2 separate regions of the Homo sapiens genome follow, and region 2 is linked to region 1. The links come from fine-mapping of genetic effects on gene expression. Tissue or cell type: cerebellum. Region 1 holds a variant in brackets; the other region holds the start of a gene. All regions are shown on one strand. Distances are between the middles of the regions.

Region 1 (8,082 bases):
CAGAAAAGATTGCTGTTGGCTTAATACTAGCAGAATTCTACCTGGGACTCATTGACCCCAAAACAGACCCACCAGGACTATTCAAGTTGTGTGTGTGTGTGTGTGTGTGTGTGTGTGTGTGTGTGTGTGTGTGTGTGTGTGTTTGTGTGCTGGGGTAGTGGGTTGTAAGGATGTGGCAGGCCACCTTGCAGACATCCGGGGTCAGAGAAGAGGGTCTGGACAGGCATCCCAGAGATGGGAGCTGGTAGTCAAGAATCAGAGTGGCTCCCCTTGGCCTCTCTCCAGGGCCTCAGATCCGCTTCATGAGCCTGCGCTGCACCTTCCCGTCTGCTTCCCCTGCTGCCCCTCCTGCATGTGGAACTTCAGGGTGTGCTGGCCCACACCCCACAGGACCTTTCAGCTCCAGTCCCCACCATCAGTGGATGACCTCACTCTGACTTTTGGTTTACATCTCCAAGACAGAATTGTACTAGTTTCTCTTCGGGACAGAAATCCTTCCTTGCCCAAAAGCCAGCCCTACCCTTTCTCCTTAAACAGGAGACTTGAGCAGAACAATTGAAAGCAGAAGGAGAAATTGGTTTGGGCTGGGAAATCTGCCCATGTCTCTGGTCCCAAATCCTAACTCCCACAACCCCCCATGAGAATCTGTAGGACTTAGATAGCCTGTCCCTTCTGATTAGTAGGCTTCCCCAGGTTGGGAGTCCCCTGGAATCTTTCCCAAGCAGTGATCACAGTTCCCTCATTTCCTACAGTGCAACAAAATAAATCCTAAGGGATAGGTCATCTGGATTGGGTTTGGGAAATAATGAGAAGGGGCTGGGCACAGTGGCTCACGTCTGTAATCCCAGCACTTTGGGAGGCCGAGGTACACAGATCACTTGAGTCCAGGAGTTCAGAGACCAGCCTGGCCAACATGGCAAAACCCCATCTCTACAAAAAATACAAAAATTAGCTGGGCGTGGTTTCACACACCTGTAATCCTAGCTTACTCTGATGGCTGAGGCATGAGAATCGCTTGAATCCAGGAGGTGGAGGTTGCAGTGAGCCGAGATCATGCCACTGCACTCCAGTCTGGATGATGGAGTGAAATTCTGTCTCAGGAAAAAAAAAAAAGAAAAAAGAAGCTCTGTGAATTTTACCCCCGTGGTTGGAATATTTGTAAAATGCTTGGCTTCCCTTTCCTGCTTCAGTCAGTGACTGTTCTGGGAGTCTCTCTTCTAGCCCCTGTCCTGGGGCTCAGGCATTGCTGCAGTGGCCACTGGTGTCTGGTGTGGGAGATGGGTAGAATCAGCTATCTGTGGGGTCGTGTGTTTTGTTTTTTTCTTTAAATAATATATGATGTTTCCTGGCCATTTTAATGTTCTTCTGGGACAGGAAGAGTAGAAAAATATTCCGGTTGACTGAGAATTCTAGTTAGTATCAGAGGTAGAGTAGACCTTAGTAATTATCTAGTTCAAAGCCGGCGTTTTACATGGAAGGAAACTGAGGCCCAGAGAAGGGATGTGACCCAAACAAGGTCCCATGCGAAGTCAGAAACTAGATTTCTTATTGGGCTTTTCTTCCCAGACCACGTTCATATCTGGCCTCTTGCTGTATTCTCTTTGGCTCAGGAGGGAAAGGAGGGGCAGGGCAAGACAAAGATGCCGTGTCTTGGTCATAGGTGGGAAAACTGAGGCACAGAGTGACTTCGCAGTTTGCCCGGCCCTAGGTAGAGTCAACATAGGCATGGTAGGTCTCCACTTTTGCCATAAGCCCTGTGGAGCCACAGTGACCGCCATGGGTTAGGGAGGTGTGATGTCAGGCTGTTGGGGTTTAGAAGTGAAGCCAAGGGGCCTGGACAGGGGAATAATGAGGGAAGAGAGGAGACTCTCCTGACCCTCCCTCTTGCTCCCAGGCACGACCCCTGACCCGCTACCTGCCAATCCGGAAGGAGGACTTTGACCTGAAGACACATATTGAGTCATCGGGCCATGGTGTTGATACCTGCCTGCACGTGGTGCTCAGCAGCAAGGTACAAGGCGTGTGTGGCCCTGGGGTGCTGGGGAGAGGGAGAATCCCGTGGTGAGAGGCACCTCCTGGGTCGTTGGAATAGTGGCGTCAGTCTCTACCCTCACCTAACCAGATCTCTGTCCCAGGACCTGGTGTGCTGGCCTGAGGAGATGTTGGGGACAATCCCCCATGAATACAGGCACAGGCGATGGCACACACTTAAGGCTTAAGGGCTGCATATTTGGGTCCTTCCTTACTCCTGCTTCCTACCAGGTCTGCCGTGGCTACTTGGTCAAGATGGGCGGCAAGATTAAATCATGGAAGAAGCGCTGGTTTGTCTTCGACCGGCTCAAGCGCACCCTTTCCTATTATGTGGGTGAGTTCCCACAAGGCCACCCTGGGGGCCAGCCAGGATCCCTGGGCTCTGTTACCCAGGACGGCTGGTCTTCTAGAAGGAGGCCAAGCTTCCAAGTAGGGGACCAGAGTCTTGGGCTAGGCTTTGCCCTCCTTCCCTGAAAATGTACACAATGTACCTGGTTCACCTCCATTTTTGTGTTCATTCATTCATTCCTTCATTCAGCAATGTTACTAAGCATCTAGTAAGTTCTAGGCACTGTTCTAGGCTCTGGTGATGAGTAAGATGGCCACAGCGCTCTCATGGAGCTTATAATCAGGGAAGCAGACAAGAGTGATAACCACGCACAATGGGTATGCTGATAGGAGACATCCAGGCACTGCAGGAGCATGGGGTCTTATGGTCAGAGTTGGGCTGGGAACTCCCCCTTGGACAAATTCCATCAGAGATTCCAAGACAAGCAGTTGAACAGTGCCAAAGAGTGCTCAGGATAGCCCAGGAACAGGCCGACTAGACCCTCTTGCTCTCTCAGCTCTCTCCGTTCCAGCATCTAGCCTAGTTTCCCATCCCTGGAACTCCCTTGTACTTTTCCCACTTGGAGCGTGGGATGCTGTGTTATACCCTAGTCAGGAGGAGGTAAGGTATGCTGCAGTAACAAGAAGTCATAAAATCCCAGTGGCTGGACAGGTGCAGTGGCTCACACCTGTGATCCCAAAACTTTGGGAGGCCAAGGTGGGCAGATAGCTTGAGGCTAAGAGATTGAGACCAGCCTGGGCAACATGGTGAAACTTTGTCTCTACTAAAAATACAAAAATTAGCTGGGCGTGGTGGCATGCACCTGTAGTCCCAGCTACTCGGGAGGCTGAGCACGAGAATTGCTTGAACCCAAGAGACAGAGGTTGCAGTGAGCCGAGACTGCGCCACTGCACTCCAGCCTGGACAACAGCGTGAGACTCTGTCTCAAAAAAATAAATTAAAAGGCCGGGCATGGTGTCTCATGCCTGTAATCCCAGCACTTTTGAGAGGCCGAAGCGGGCAGATCACGAGGTCAAGAGATTGAGACCATCCTGGCCAACGTGGTGAAACCCCGTCTCTACTAAAAATACAAAAATTAGCTGGGCATGGTGGCACGCGCCTGTAGTCCCAGCTACTCGGGAGGCTGAGGCAGGAGAATTGCTTAAACCCAGGAGGCAGAGGTTACTGTGAGCTGAGATCGTGCCACTGCACTCTAGCCTGGCGATAGAGCAAGACGCCGTCTCAAAAAAAAAAAAAAAAGGAAATCTCAGTGGCTTACAAGTACTAGGCTTCCTTATGCCCAATACATGTCGACTGCACATTGTGAGTTGGTGGGGGCTTTGCTGTGCATCAGCGTTGTCTTTGCTTCAGCATGGCTTTTGGGAACATTTCTGGCCACAGTGGCAGAGGGAAAGAGAGGCTTAAGTGAGCCCGGCCTTGGTATTAAATGTCCTAGTTGGGAAGTGACACACATCATTTCTGTCCAGAAGTCATAGATGGGGCTGTCTGCCAGTCACACAGCCTCACCTAGCCACACAGCTGGGAAGAGCAATCCTGCTAGGAGCTCAGAAGAGGGGAAAGGGCTGCAGAGTTTGGTGCCAGAGATGCTCAGGTCTGGAGTGCCCACTTCCCCCCTAACCTGGTCCCTGATCACCTGCTGGCCCCTCTAAGAAACCTTCCCTGACCACCCTGGGTCTTGGGTGTTTTGAGGAGGCAGGAGGACCAGAAGCACAGGTGTCCCATGTTTCTCTCTGGGCCAGGAAGGTAGAGGGACTAGGGACTTTGGAGAGGAAGAAACATGCCTGGGGAAAGGAGTTCCATTTTAGGCATGTTGAGATTGAAGTGCCTCTGGGACATCTAGGTTTAGGAGGATGGTCAGGATTAGAGGTGGAGTAATAGTTGAATCAGGTGGAATAATAGTAATAGCAGATCACCTTTATCAAGCACTTGCATGAGCCAGGCGCTGTGCTAAGCACTCTGCATGCATCATCTCATTAATCTTTGAAATAATCCTATGAGGGAAACACTATTTTTATGCCATTTTACCGATGAGGAAAATGATGCTCAGAGAGGTTAAGTAAATTGCCCAAGGTCCCACAGCTCCTAAGAGACAGAGATAAGACTGAACCTGGGCAGTCAGACTGCAGAGCAGAGAAGAGGGGAGGGAGAGGGCCGAACCCTGGGGCAGGCCTACCCGTGTGGGGAAGGAGAAAGAGGAGAGACCAGCAGAGGGAGAAGGGGCAGGAGACAGGAAGCCAGCACTAACCACATGCCAGGTGCTGGGCTGGTGCTTGGCATATGTGGCCTTAGTTAGCGCCTGTGGAACAAAAGGAGACTAAGTTCAGATGGCAGGAATAGAAATGGGAGCAGAAACAGGGAAGGAAGCCAGCCAAAGGAGCAGACATTCACAAGCAGGAGGTGTCACCAGCAGTGATGGATGCTGCAGGAAGGCCAAGAAAGATGTGGCCCAAAGGCTGTTAGACTCAGGGATGGGAGCTTGTCAAGAGAAGGCTTTCTGCTGTGCATGGGGCCAGGAGCCAGACTGCACAAGA[T/C]TGAGGATAGGTGGGTGGTAAGGAAGCGGAGGCAGGAGTGTGTTACTATTTCCTGTGAAGGAAGGGATGGGAGAGAACAGGAGCTGGAGGGCTGAGCAGGCCCAGAGCCAGGCAGGGCTGGTCCTTTACCAAGGAGGAAATGTCAGAAATGGGCCTGTGGCTGGATAAGGGCCATGGGTGCCTTGCCTATTCCGCTTGGACCCTCTTCCTGCCAACTCGATAGAAACCCCCTCATTGCATGGAGTCCAGATTACGTATTATATCTAGGAAGCCTTTCCTGACCCCACCTTACTAGGAGTGATTCCCACCCTCCTCTGAACCCCTGCATTATCCAGCATCTGTTTTTCCATGTGACATCAATCCAGGAGTGTAATGATATAATAACAGTGCCACGTTATGTGCCACACACTGTGCTGAATACCTTAAATGTGTTCTTTCATTTAATACTCATGACAACCTGTGATGCGTAGGTGGTCTCATGGGGTTCCTAGCCATGCCTTTAGTAGCTATTTACATAGCTGTGTGTCTGTATTTTCCTCACTGTGAGATTGTAGTTTCCTAAGAGAAGGGTCTCTGACTTCTCTCTGAATCCCAGTGTCTAGGACTCATTCCTTCAGTATTGGGTACCTACTGTGTGCCAGGCACATAGTTGTTTGTGTTGGGGGAGGTAGACCATGGAATGGATAAAGGAGGATTCAGATTCAGCATAAGTTCTATACAGAGGAGCATCTGTGCTTTGGGAACACAGGAGAGCACAACTGTGCACTGTCGTGGTGACATTTTGCAATGGGTCTTGAAGATCATTTAGGAGTTTGCTAAGGAAATGGGCTGGAGGAGATAGTTCCAGCATACAGGGTGTATTATTAAGGGAACAGTGAGAAGCTCAGATAGGACTTGGGACTCATGCAGGGGAAGGTTATGATACAAGGCTGGAGGGACATGTTGGCAGCAGTCCGTAAGTTGCCTTTACCAAGCTGCAGAGGTCGGGGAGAGGAGGAGCACTCGGGAAGGAACTTACTTCCAGCCGGCACCATTGAATTTAGTGATTCGCGTGACCTCTCCTGTAGGACGCAGGCTCACTGTTAAGGATGTCAGCTGTAGCATCTGAGCAGTGCCACAGACAAGTTGGCCCAGGCCCTGTGCTTTCCCTTGACAGGGATCCTGCCCCTTCTCACTGAATGGTCACCTCTGCTCAGGTAGTTTGCCCCTTTCCTGCCACCTCTGACCTCCAGAGGCTATATGCTATATGTATATGCTAACTGCTCTGTACACATCAAGGGAGTGTGCTTCCTATCTTTTTTTTTAAAAAATAGGTAAAAGTATTCATATAGTTCAAAAATAAAAAATATATAAAAAGGTTTAAATTGAGAATTATGCCCCACCCACTACAGTAACTAATTTTATAAATCTCTTGTGTATCCTTATAGAGTTTCTATAGGAGAATATAAACAAATACTTTTTCTTGCACAAAAGGTGGCATACAGTACATTCTTTTTACCTCCTAATGTGTCTTAGAGATCATTTTATATCAAATTTATCTATATCTAGACATTATATCTCGATATAAATTATAGACTTATTTCTGAGTCTGTATCTGTATCAGATATTTCTTTCTTTCTCTTTTTTTTTTTTTTTTTTTTTGAGACAGAGTTTTGCTCTTTTTGCCCAGGCTGAAGTGCAGTGGCGTGATCTCAGCTCACTGCAACCTCCGCCTCCCGGATTCAAGTGATTCTCCTGCCTCAGGCTCCCGAATAGCTGGGATTATAGGCATGCACCACCACACTCGGCTTATTTTTGTATTTTGAGTAGAGACGGGGTTTCACCATGTTGGCCAGGCTGGTCTCGAACTCCTGACCTCAGGTGATCCACCCTCCTCGGCCTCCCAAAATGCTGGAATTATAGGCATGAGCCACCATGCCTGGCCTATATCATTTTACTTAACAGCTGTATTTAGTCTTCCATGATGTGACACACACTAACTTATTAACCAGTCTCCACTTGATTGATATTTTGGTTGTTTCCAATCTTCTGTGACTGCAGACAATACTATACTTAATAATCTTGTGTGTGTTACTTTGTATATGTGAAAGAGAAATTCTCCTAAATGTAAGCATTGGATCAAAAGATAAATGCCTTTCTAATTTTGATAGACATGGCCAAATTGTTCATAAGGGTTTTACCAATTTATACTCCCACATGTCATTAGACTGCCTCCTTCACCATAGACTTGCCAAAAGTGTGCTGTATATTTGTTGTATGTTTTTGTCATTGGGGTAGGTGAGAAGTGGTATCTCAGTGGAGTTCTGATTTGTATTTCTCTGTGATTATGAGTGAGGCTGAGCATTATCCATATCTTTAGGATTCTGTATTGGGTTCTGTTTGGGGGTCTTGGGAGACTAGGATCTTCACCCCATTTCCCAGATTTGGAAGCTCAGGCCATGGAGCTCCACGTAAATGGAGCTAGACCTGAAGTGTGACCGGCTCCATAGCCCACCCTTACTTGCTTTGCAGACAAGCATGAGACGAAGCTGAAGGGAGTCATCTATTTCCAGGCCATTGAGGAAGTGTACTACGACCACCTGCGCAGTGCAGCCAAGGTCAGGGGTGGAGGGCACCAGAGGGGGGCCAGAGGGACAGCCATGGGGAAGGGGTGGCCTGGTGGGGCTCTGGGAGCAAAGGCCTCCAGCCTGCCCTCTACAGAGGCTCCAACCCAGTCCTTGTTCTCTTTGTCAACTTTCTCTTCCTTTCTCCCTCTCCCCTTCCCAGAAGAGGTTTTTCCGCTTCACTATGGTGACTGAGGTACCCCTCCCCACTTAGCTGTAACCAGCACATTAACACCTCCTGTACCCCACTCATCCCTGACCCTTGACCTCCCCTTCATCCCCCTCCCTTCCCCCAGGCCCAAGGGAGGAGCAGAAAGCAGGTTGCAAAGAGCAAGAAGCTCCTGTGGGCTTGGGTGCCTCTCTCTCCTTGTTGCCTCCCTCTCCTGGAAATGACAGCAGACCCCATGGGGGTCTGGTGATAGAGAAGGGATGGCCGGAAGGGGTGGAGGGGACCCTTAAAGACTAGATTTAATAGGGAGAAATTGATAAACAGGAGATATTGGAGGCTGGGGCCTGCTTCCCTAGTGCAAGTCAGCCTTCCTGCCCCCAGCCCTCTGGTGCCCACCCC
Region 2 (8,101 bases), 45 kb before region 1:
ATGTTTATTGGATTATTGACTCACTTTGGTGTCTGCTTGTTGATTCAGGATGCTGTAATGGGACCTAACATTAAAAATTAATGACATGTTTTTTTTAAGAGAAAGTAATCTGTGAGAGTATTCATTGCCTTTTTCCATCTTATATGTATTGTGCTTCCTTGCGTATTTTTCTACATTTGATACATGCACTCCTGACAGTGTAGCTTTTGAATTTGATGCTACTTCTGGCCTTTTTGGGGATTGGAGTCTTAATTTTGTCAGACGGCAGTTGGAGAGTCAAAAAAGTCAGGCTTCATCTTTAATCTTGGAGTCTTGGAGTCTTCTCTTCCCCATTAGACCGTGATGAGAAGTGATCCAGGGATGAGGGATAATGGGAACAATTTTTGGGAACTGTTGATAATTCCCTCAGATAAACCTGCTTACTTTTTTTTTTTGAGATGGAGTCTCGCTTAGCTGCCCAGGTTGGAGTGTGGTGGTGCGATCTCAGCTCGCTGCAACCACGGTCGCCCAGCTTCAAGCGATTCTCCTGCCTCAGCCTCCAGAGTAGCTGGGATTACAGTCACCCGCCATCATGCCGGGCTAATTTTTTTTGTATTTTCGTAGAGACGGTTTCACCATGTTGGTCAGGCTGGTCTTGAACTCCTGGTCTCAGATGATTCGCCCACCTCTGCCTCCCAAAGTGCTGGATTACAGGCGTGAGCCACCGCGCCCAGCCTTTTTTTTTTTTTTTTTTGAGACAGTCACCAGGCTGCAGTGCAGTGACATGATTTCGGCTCACCACAACCTCCACCTCCAGGGTTCAAGTGATTCTCCTGCCTCAGCCTCCTGAGTAGCTGGGATTACAGGCATTCCACACCACCACCCCCGGCTAATTTTTGTATTTTTAGTAGAGACGGTTTCACCATGTTGGTCAGACTGGTCTCAAACTCCTGACCTCGTGATCCGCCCGCCTCAGCCTCCCAAAGTGCTGGGATTATAGGCCTGAGCCACCGCGCTCCGCCAGAGCTGCTTACTTTCTTATGCTTTTTTAAAATTTAACTTGGAAAAACTATTGGGTGTCAAAAAATTGGAAGGCAAATTATTCTCACTTATTAAGTATCTGGGATGAGAAATTTCTAATGTTGAAAGCCAAGATTCTGATTTTTTTTTTCTTGGTGAAAAAAAGTATCTGGTCTAATGTTGCTCAAGTGTGGCTTAGCTGTCTGAGACTGTAGCCTTAATCGAATGAAATGATTAAGGTCTGTCATTCCTTTACTCACCATAGCTTCAAATTTGTCAACCCATGCATCTCTGATGGGAAACTTTGCCCTCCAATTAATTTTTAAATTGTGAACAGTTTTAAAGTTGTTCACACTGGCTAGGGTCTGAGATTTCCAGGGTTGATATAGAATAGCTTTTTATTAAACTTCACATCTGACAGGGCTTATTGGAAGGAGACAGGAGAAAAATGGAAAAAGTCATCCTCAAGAAGATTAAAGTCTAACTGGAAGCAATGACTATCTGCTTGTGAAGCCTTTTTTTTTCCAAGTTAGACAAGTGTTAACTACAGCTAGTACTAAACATGGATCTATATGAGAGTAGGTAACATGGCTTCTGTCTTGTAGGCTCTAGAGGAATCTCAAGCAAAACCTCACAAATGATTTTCTTTTGCTATGCACATCTGTCTTATTACAACCCCCTTACCCCCAATTCCCTTGTCCTAGAAGATCCACAAGTAGGTTGGTTGCTGTGCATTGCTGTTACCCAAGGGCAGACAGCAACACTACAAATAGCTGCCTTAACGTCTTATCCTGGGGAGTTGGGGATTGATACGGAGGTAGGCCTTTAGAAAAATTAGACTATCTTTCCAAACCAGGCTGTTTTCCCTCTCACAATCACAAGTCAAGCTATTAGGCAGTTTTCAGAAGCTTGGACCACTTCTCCCATCCCCCACCGCAGTTTTTTTGCCCTGCTGTTCTTAGGGCAGGGGCTAAGTGGTTATTTAGGGTCTAAACCAATACTGGAAAGCTTCCCTAGGTTTACTCTGGGTGATCAGATTGATTACCAAACCAGGACAGGGGCTGTTTGAAAGAAGCATTAGAAATTCAAGACAATGAGAGAAATTGAAATAGGTCTTGTCTCCCATTCTTTTGCCCAAATGAATGCTTGTTCTTTTAGCTCATTAGGAAAGCCCTTAGCCTTGGAGGTACACAAGACCAGTCTTCTGTCCTACCCAAATTTCCCACTTAGCTTGGATGCATGTTAGCTTTGGGTCGAAGCAGACTATGCAATTTCTAAGACAGCTGAAAAGAGAGCTTTGAACTTTTCCCCAAGTTGCTGCAGGGTCATTGCTACCACCACGCCTACACCAATGATGCCTGACTTCAGGATCCAGAGGCCAGAAACGGACAGCTTTCTGGAAGAGGGTGTGTATCTACAAGGATTGCTTGCTGTATGAGCAATAATCACCTCTCTGGGGCTAGAGGGAGTACAATTTGAGAGGTGGGACAAAGTGGGGAATGTGCCAAGGCAAAAGCAGGAGTATGGAAATTCACTCCTGACACTTGTAGCCAATGCAAAGGGCCTTAGAAAAATCCACTCTTCCTTCCACACCCAGGCTTTGCCCTCTCCCCCTGCTTCCACTTCGGAAAGTCTGAAGCAGGCCTGGAAAGCTGTTTTCTGCTTTCTTTCCCTCTCTTCCTCCCCCTTTCCTGAGCTCCCAGCTGCTCGACCTCTTGCGTAACTGTGAGAGAGCGCTGAGTTTTTTGATGGGCTCCAGATGTGGAGCAGGGCGGAGATGGAGAGTGGGGGCGGTAGGTCTTTAGTCCCCTGAGTGCTCTAACTGTGGGAACATAGAGGCCTGACACAGCAGGGGAGAGGACACATTGCACAGCGCCTTTATCATAGGGTCAGCTGGTCCCTGTGTTGGGAGGTCAGTGAGAGAAGTTGGGTGCTGTTTCGACCCTCTGCCTCAGCATCCACTGCCTCCATGGCAGGCTTGATTATTCCCTGAAATTCCTCCTGCCCAGTACAGTAAAGAGGAGCTGGGGGCCGTGAAACAGAATGAAGTGAAAAGCCTCTGAGGTACTGCAATCTGGACCCCTCCCCTCAGTGCTGGGTCTTGGCACATGGGATACAACAGTTTGGGTTTTTTCCTTCTTCCTTTTTTTACATACCCAAATAGCCTGAATATTACTGTTGTGATCTGCCTCATGAAGGTTCATCAGAATTACTTTCATGACTTCAAACAGTATGAAGAGAGGAAAAACTAGAGTCTCGCTCCTCAAATCCTAGGACTTCCTGGTACCCACAGCATATTCTGGATCTTGAGTGTTCCACCTCCATTAGCTATAGCAGGTGGCAGCAAAGGGCGGCCTCTCCCCTCCCCCTCCTTGTCTGCTGCTTGGCCCCGGTCAGCTTCAGTCTCCAGCCGTGGGGGGTCCCCTGCTAAGGCCAGCCCTGTCAATGAGTGACCAGAGATTCCTGTAGTTCAGCCTCCTGCTGTTCCTGGGTTAGGGAGAGACGGCACAAACTAAACTCATTGAATTAGAACAGCACTTGTCCATCTCAAAGAGGATAAATTATTTTTTGCTATCCACCCCAGCTGGAATTTAGACCAGACTTACAGGCTTTCTGCTCCTTCCTTCAGTGAAGAAGAGTCTCCAGGGTCCCTCTAGTGCAGGTCAAAGAAGTCCAGTCCAGCTGAGTTCAGCTCCCTAGGGCCTCCCCAGCCAGTCTCCTGGACCAAGAGCTGGCTTTGCAAGGTAAGGATCCACTGTCAGCGTTGGATTTCGGAGTGGAGGTTGAGATGGAGAATGACTTCAACCTAGCTCAATTTGGGGGCTGCTTTTAGGTGTTTAGTGCCTCCTTCTCTTCCTTATTAACTCCCACTCCTACTACAGGTTGGTGTGCTCAATTGTATGTCTATAGCCTGCCTCCATCTCCCAATCTGTAATCCAGCAAGTCTGTCGGGGTGGAGGGGTGTGGAGCTCCATGGGGGCAAGATGATAATTCCATTCGGTTTTCCTGTGCTTTGGAGTTTGCATGACACTTTAACGAGTCTTCTTGTGCCTATCCTTAAGAAAGTCTGTGAAGCCTGATGTGCGTGGCTATCAATGTCATTTACAGCTCTTCATGGTGGGGCTTGGAATAGGGCGAGGGGAGGAGGTGACAGGGAGAAGACCTGGGTACCCTCAGTAGATGTTCTGGAGATGTTGAGAGCATGTTGTAGGGGCTTCGATTTGGGAGGTTCAGTGGGAGCCCGTGGAGGTTTCAGGCATCTAAGGCAAAAAGAAAGAGGGGAGAGTTTGGGGGAGGGAGAACGGATTGTCAAAAACACCCTCTCAAAAGCGTGTTAAAGCCTGGGAGTGGAGGGTGGTCTAGGAGAGTCGGGAGGGCAGGGTGGGAGGAGAGGGGGATGTGTGGTGGTGGTGGTGGTGGTGGTGGTGGTGGTGGTGGTGGTGGTGGTGGTGGTGGTGATGGTGGAGAGCCCAGCTGCAAAGATGAACAAAGCGGGCGCTGTGCAGGCTGGGGGAGGTGCTGCTGTGGGAAAGGGTGGGTGGGGGGACCTTGGGCTCCAGCCCCACAAGGGCGTCTTCTTTGGCTGGCCAGGCGGACGGGACGGGGGACGGGGGCGGGGACTGGCGGGAGGGGGGCGGGACAGGCTCGCTCTCCTCCTACTTAGCGAGCTCCCGGGGAAAAGCAACGGTGTCCTCCTAAGCCTGAGGCCACCGCGACCGAGCCGAGCCAGGCTAAGGGACCAGTGTCTCCCTGCCCCCCCCCCACCTCTAGGTAAGAGCGCCCCGTCCCACTACACTTGCGGGTCCCATTCGCTGCGGTGCTAGGACTGGATAAGGGGAAGTCCCCGGGGCCTGGCGAGAGCCCTGAGATCAGCTCTAGGCTAGGGAGCTCGGCAGAAACCCGTGGGGGAGAGAGGGCACCCCAGGTGAGTGCGTGGGGGCGAAAGGAGCGTTATGGGGAGTTTTCCTGTGAGCCTCTTGCTTTTGCCTTCCTCGGCCGCTGCCAACGCCACCGCCAGAGGGGGCCGTGACGCTCTCCCCCCCTTGGAGAAACTCTGATCCTGGCCCTATCCAGACTCTCCCGCCGGCACCCAGGCGGCCGGGCGGACACTCGCGGGGTATCGGGCGGCGAGCGCGCGCGCGGGTTTTCGTCCTCCAGCGCCCCACACCTCCCCCTCTCCGCCCACAGCAGGACCTTGGGGCGGGGGTATCTCCTGTGACGTCTCCCCGCCTGTCCCCAGGCCGGCCGCCTTGATGGACCAGGAAGGGATTCGGAGTCCGGCTCAGAGTCTTGAGCGTCTAGGAGGGCTGCCTGGGGGTGTCCAGGAGATGGGAAGCCCGCCTGGGGCCTCCCAGGCACTCCCCAAGGCCCCACGTCCTCGGGGGCCGGGGAGGCCGCCTGGGGCGCCTTGCCACGCCCGCGCGGTCCCTATTGGAATCCCTAGCGGAGTTCCCCGAGCGGAGGCTGACCCAAGTCATCCGGGCTCCCCCGGGATAGGGAAGTGCGGGCGGGCGGCTGGGTAGGGGCGCCGGCGCAGGGTGGCCGAGTCGCCCGCTAGCGCTTCCGCCGAGGCAGGCTCGAGTGGGGACTTGGCCGGGCGACCGCACAGCCCTGCCGGGGACCCACGGCTCTGGGGCGGGGCTGCATTCTGGGCCGTTAGCTCAGCGGTCCTGGAGCCTCCCGAGGCTGACTCATCGGGCGGCGGGCTCACCCCCCAGCCGTCAAACGCAAACGCAGGCGCCCCACCACGCCGGGCTCCCACGCGGCACACACGCACGCCTCCGCGACACTTCGCACACCTACGTCCCTGCGTCACGCCACCCAGACACACCCGGACCCGCCCACACGCCGAGGCCTTCCCACGCACTCCATGCCTTACGCCTCACAGGAAAGCGCCCCGCGCTCACGCAGCCCCTCACACCCGCAGCCCCGCTTACACGCGCCCCAGCTCACACATGCACCCCAGTCACACAGCCTACCTCACACACGCACCCCAGTCACACACACAACCCAGCTCACACACGTACCCGTCACACATGAGGCCCCAGCTCACACACGAAGCCCAGCTCACACACGCAGCCCCAGCTCTCACACACACACCCCAGTCAAACACGAGGCCCCAGCTCACACACGAAGCCCAGCTCACACACACTGCCCCAGTTACACAGCCCAGCTCATGCAAGCAGCCCGTCACACACACAGCCCAGCTCACACACACAGCCCAGCTCACACAAGCAGCCCGTCACACACACAGCCCAGCTCACACACACAGCCCCAGTTATACACACACAGCCCAGCTCACACACGCAGCCCGTCACACACACAGCTCAGCTCAATACACAGCCCAGCTCACACACACAGCCCCAGTTACACACACAGCCCAGCTTACACACACAGCCCAGCTCACACACACAGCCCATCACACACACAGCCTATCACACACACAGCTCAGCTCAATACACAGCCCAGCTGACACACGCAGCCCAGCTCACACATACACTCCAGCTCACACACGCAGCCCGTCACACAGCCCCAGCCACACACACAGCCCAGCTCACACACGCAGCCCAGCTCACACATGCAGCCCCCTCACACATGCAGCCCCAGTCACACACACAGCCCAGCTCACACCGCAGCCCCAGCTCACACACGCGGCCCCTCACACACATTCAGCCGCCCTTCCCGCAGCTGCCAGGCTCGGAACGGGCGGTGTCTGTGGGGGCCGCCCCGTTTCCCGGCCGCGCAAACAAGCGGCTCCTTCTCTCTGCCCCGCCAAAGAAAGGCCGCTTGTCAGGGGCGGGCGGGCAGGCGGCAGCGGCAGGCGCCCAACACTGCGGCCTTGTCCCACGCGGGCAGCCTGGGCAGGAGCAGGCCGAGGGGTGCAAGGGGCCGCTACCTTGCGGAAACCTCCCTCCCTCGGCCCTGCGGACCGCGGAGAGGCACCTTTCCACCACCGGACACCCAAGCAACAGCCCTCGCTCCATCCGCGCTCTCCCGGCTCCCCCTCTCCTCGGGCCGCCCATCTCTCCTCTCTTCCGCCTTTGGGGTCCCGGTGGGCCCCAGCCTCCCTCTCCTTCGCCCCATCTCCCCGCCCGTCAGCCTCCCCTCCGCTGCCCTCGCGCATCCCCAGTGTTCCCGTCTGTCGTCGCCTCCACTTGAGGACCCGCCTGTCCTTTCTTCCCCCGACCCCTCCACCTCTGTGTTCTTCAGTCTCCCCGCATCCTCTGCCCTCGGTCTTCCCCTCCCCAGCTTGCATTTTTTCCCATCTCTTAGTCTGCCTTTCATTTTCCCCTTCACATCCCGGTGGCTCCCCTTCCCCGCCCCGTCCCTCTGCACACCCCCATTCATCTCTGTCAGGTTTTTCTCATCCTTAAGTTCTCTCGTCCCCCTCCCCACTCGGGCGTCCCCCGCTGGGCTCCCCGCCTCAGTTTCCTTCCCTTCCTGACTCCTTCCTCTGACGGCGGCCCTTTCTCGAGGGCGGATGTGCGCCTGGAGGGCGAAGGCGGCGGCCGAGAGGACCCCAGCTCGGCCTGGCGGGCCTCTGGCCACAGCCATGCACCGCTTGGGCCGAGGCCGAGGCCGACCCCCAGGGACACAGGTGAGGCCGGGCGACCCGCGGGGCTCCGGGGAGCGCCCGAGCAGTGGCCCCGCGAAGGGCCGGGTCTGGTGCTCTGGGGCTGGCTTTGGACCTCTCGTCCTGGGACTCCGTGGGAGCCCGGGAGCTGTGTCAGTGCCCGTTGGTGCTGGAGCCAGTCGGCCCTTCCTTGGCCTCCTTCAGGCGGGGGCCAAGACCCCCGAGAGTTCACTCTGGGTGCTCCACTCGGCGGAGAGGGCTTCAGACTGGTGTCCCGCGTGGCTGGGGTGTCGGCGCATTCCCGCGGGGGAGGAGGCCGAGGGCCCGGGCCGGGGTCACCTGCCGGCGCCCCGGCCTTGCGCACAGAGGGCCTTGCCTGTCGCTCGTCAAATCCAGACACCTGGGCCTCCGCCACTCGGCTGCCGGGGCGGCACTGGGGCGTCTGTACCCAGCGTGCGGGAGGGCACCCAGGGCCGGACGCGCACCGCAGGGGTCTTTTTTTGGCCGCGGGGCCGGGCGGGCGGGTAA

Evidence for each region. PIP is the estimated chance that this variant, and not a neighbour inherited with it, causes the effect.
Region 2: PHLDB1 starts here. The variant in region 1 is fine-mapped to the expression of PHLDB1 in cerebellum (GTEx, PIP 0.99).

Annotation. Positions count from the first base shown.
Region 1 is chr11:118,648,183-118,656,264 of GRCh38, forward strand. PHLDB1 (pleckstrin homology like domain family B member 1) reads left to right here. Exons shown (of 23, transcript NM_001144758.3): 19 at 1,895-2,011; 20 at 2,263-2,365; 21 at 7,423-7,508; 22 at 7,678-7,710. Among named protein-coding and RNA genes, the nearest start is that of MIR6716, 8.2 kb to the left of the region's middle. The variant T/C (reference allele first, on the strand shown) is at 4,912.
Region 2 is chr11:118,602,930-118,611,030 of GRCh38, forward strand. PHLDB1 (pleckstrin homology like domain family B member 1) reads left to right here and starts at 4,686. Exons shown (of 23, transcript NM_001144758.3): 1 at 4,686-4,770. ARCN1 (archain 1 coat protein complex I subunit delta) reads left to right here. Exons shown (of 10, transcript NM_001655.5): 10 at 1-104. It overlaps LOC124902765 (a long non-coding RNA gene), which reads right to left and starts at 5,582. Exons shown (of 2, transcript XR_007062908.1): 1 at 5,194-5,582; 2 at 1-4,259. RefSeq lists a cis regulatory region at 1,723-1,918, silencers at 5,178-5,267, 5,328-5,397, 7,913-7,972 and enhancers at 5,525-5,819, 5,857-6,531, 6,532-7,205.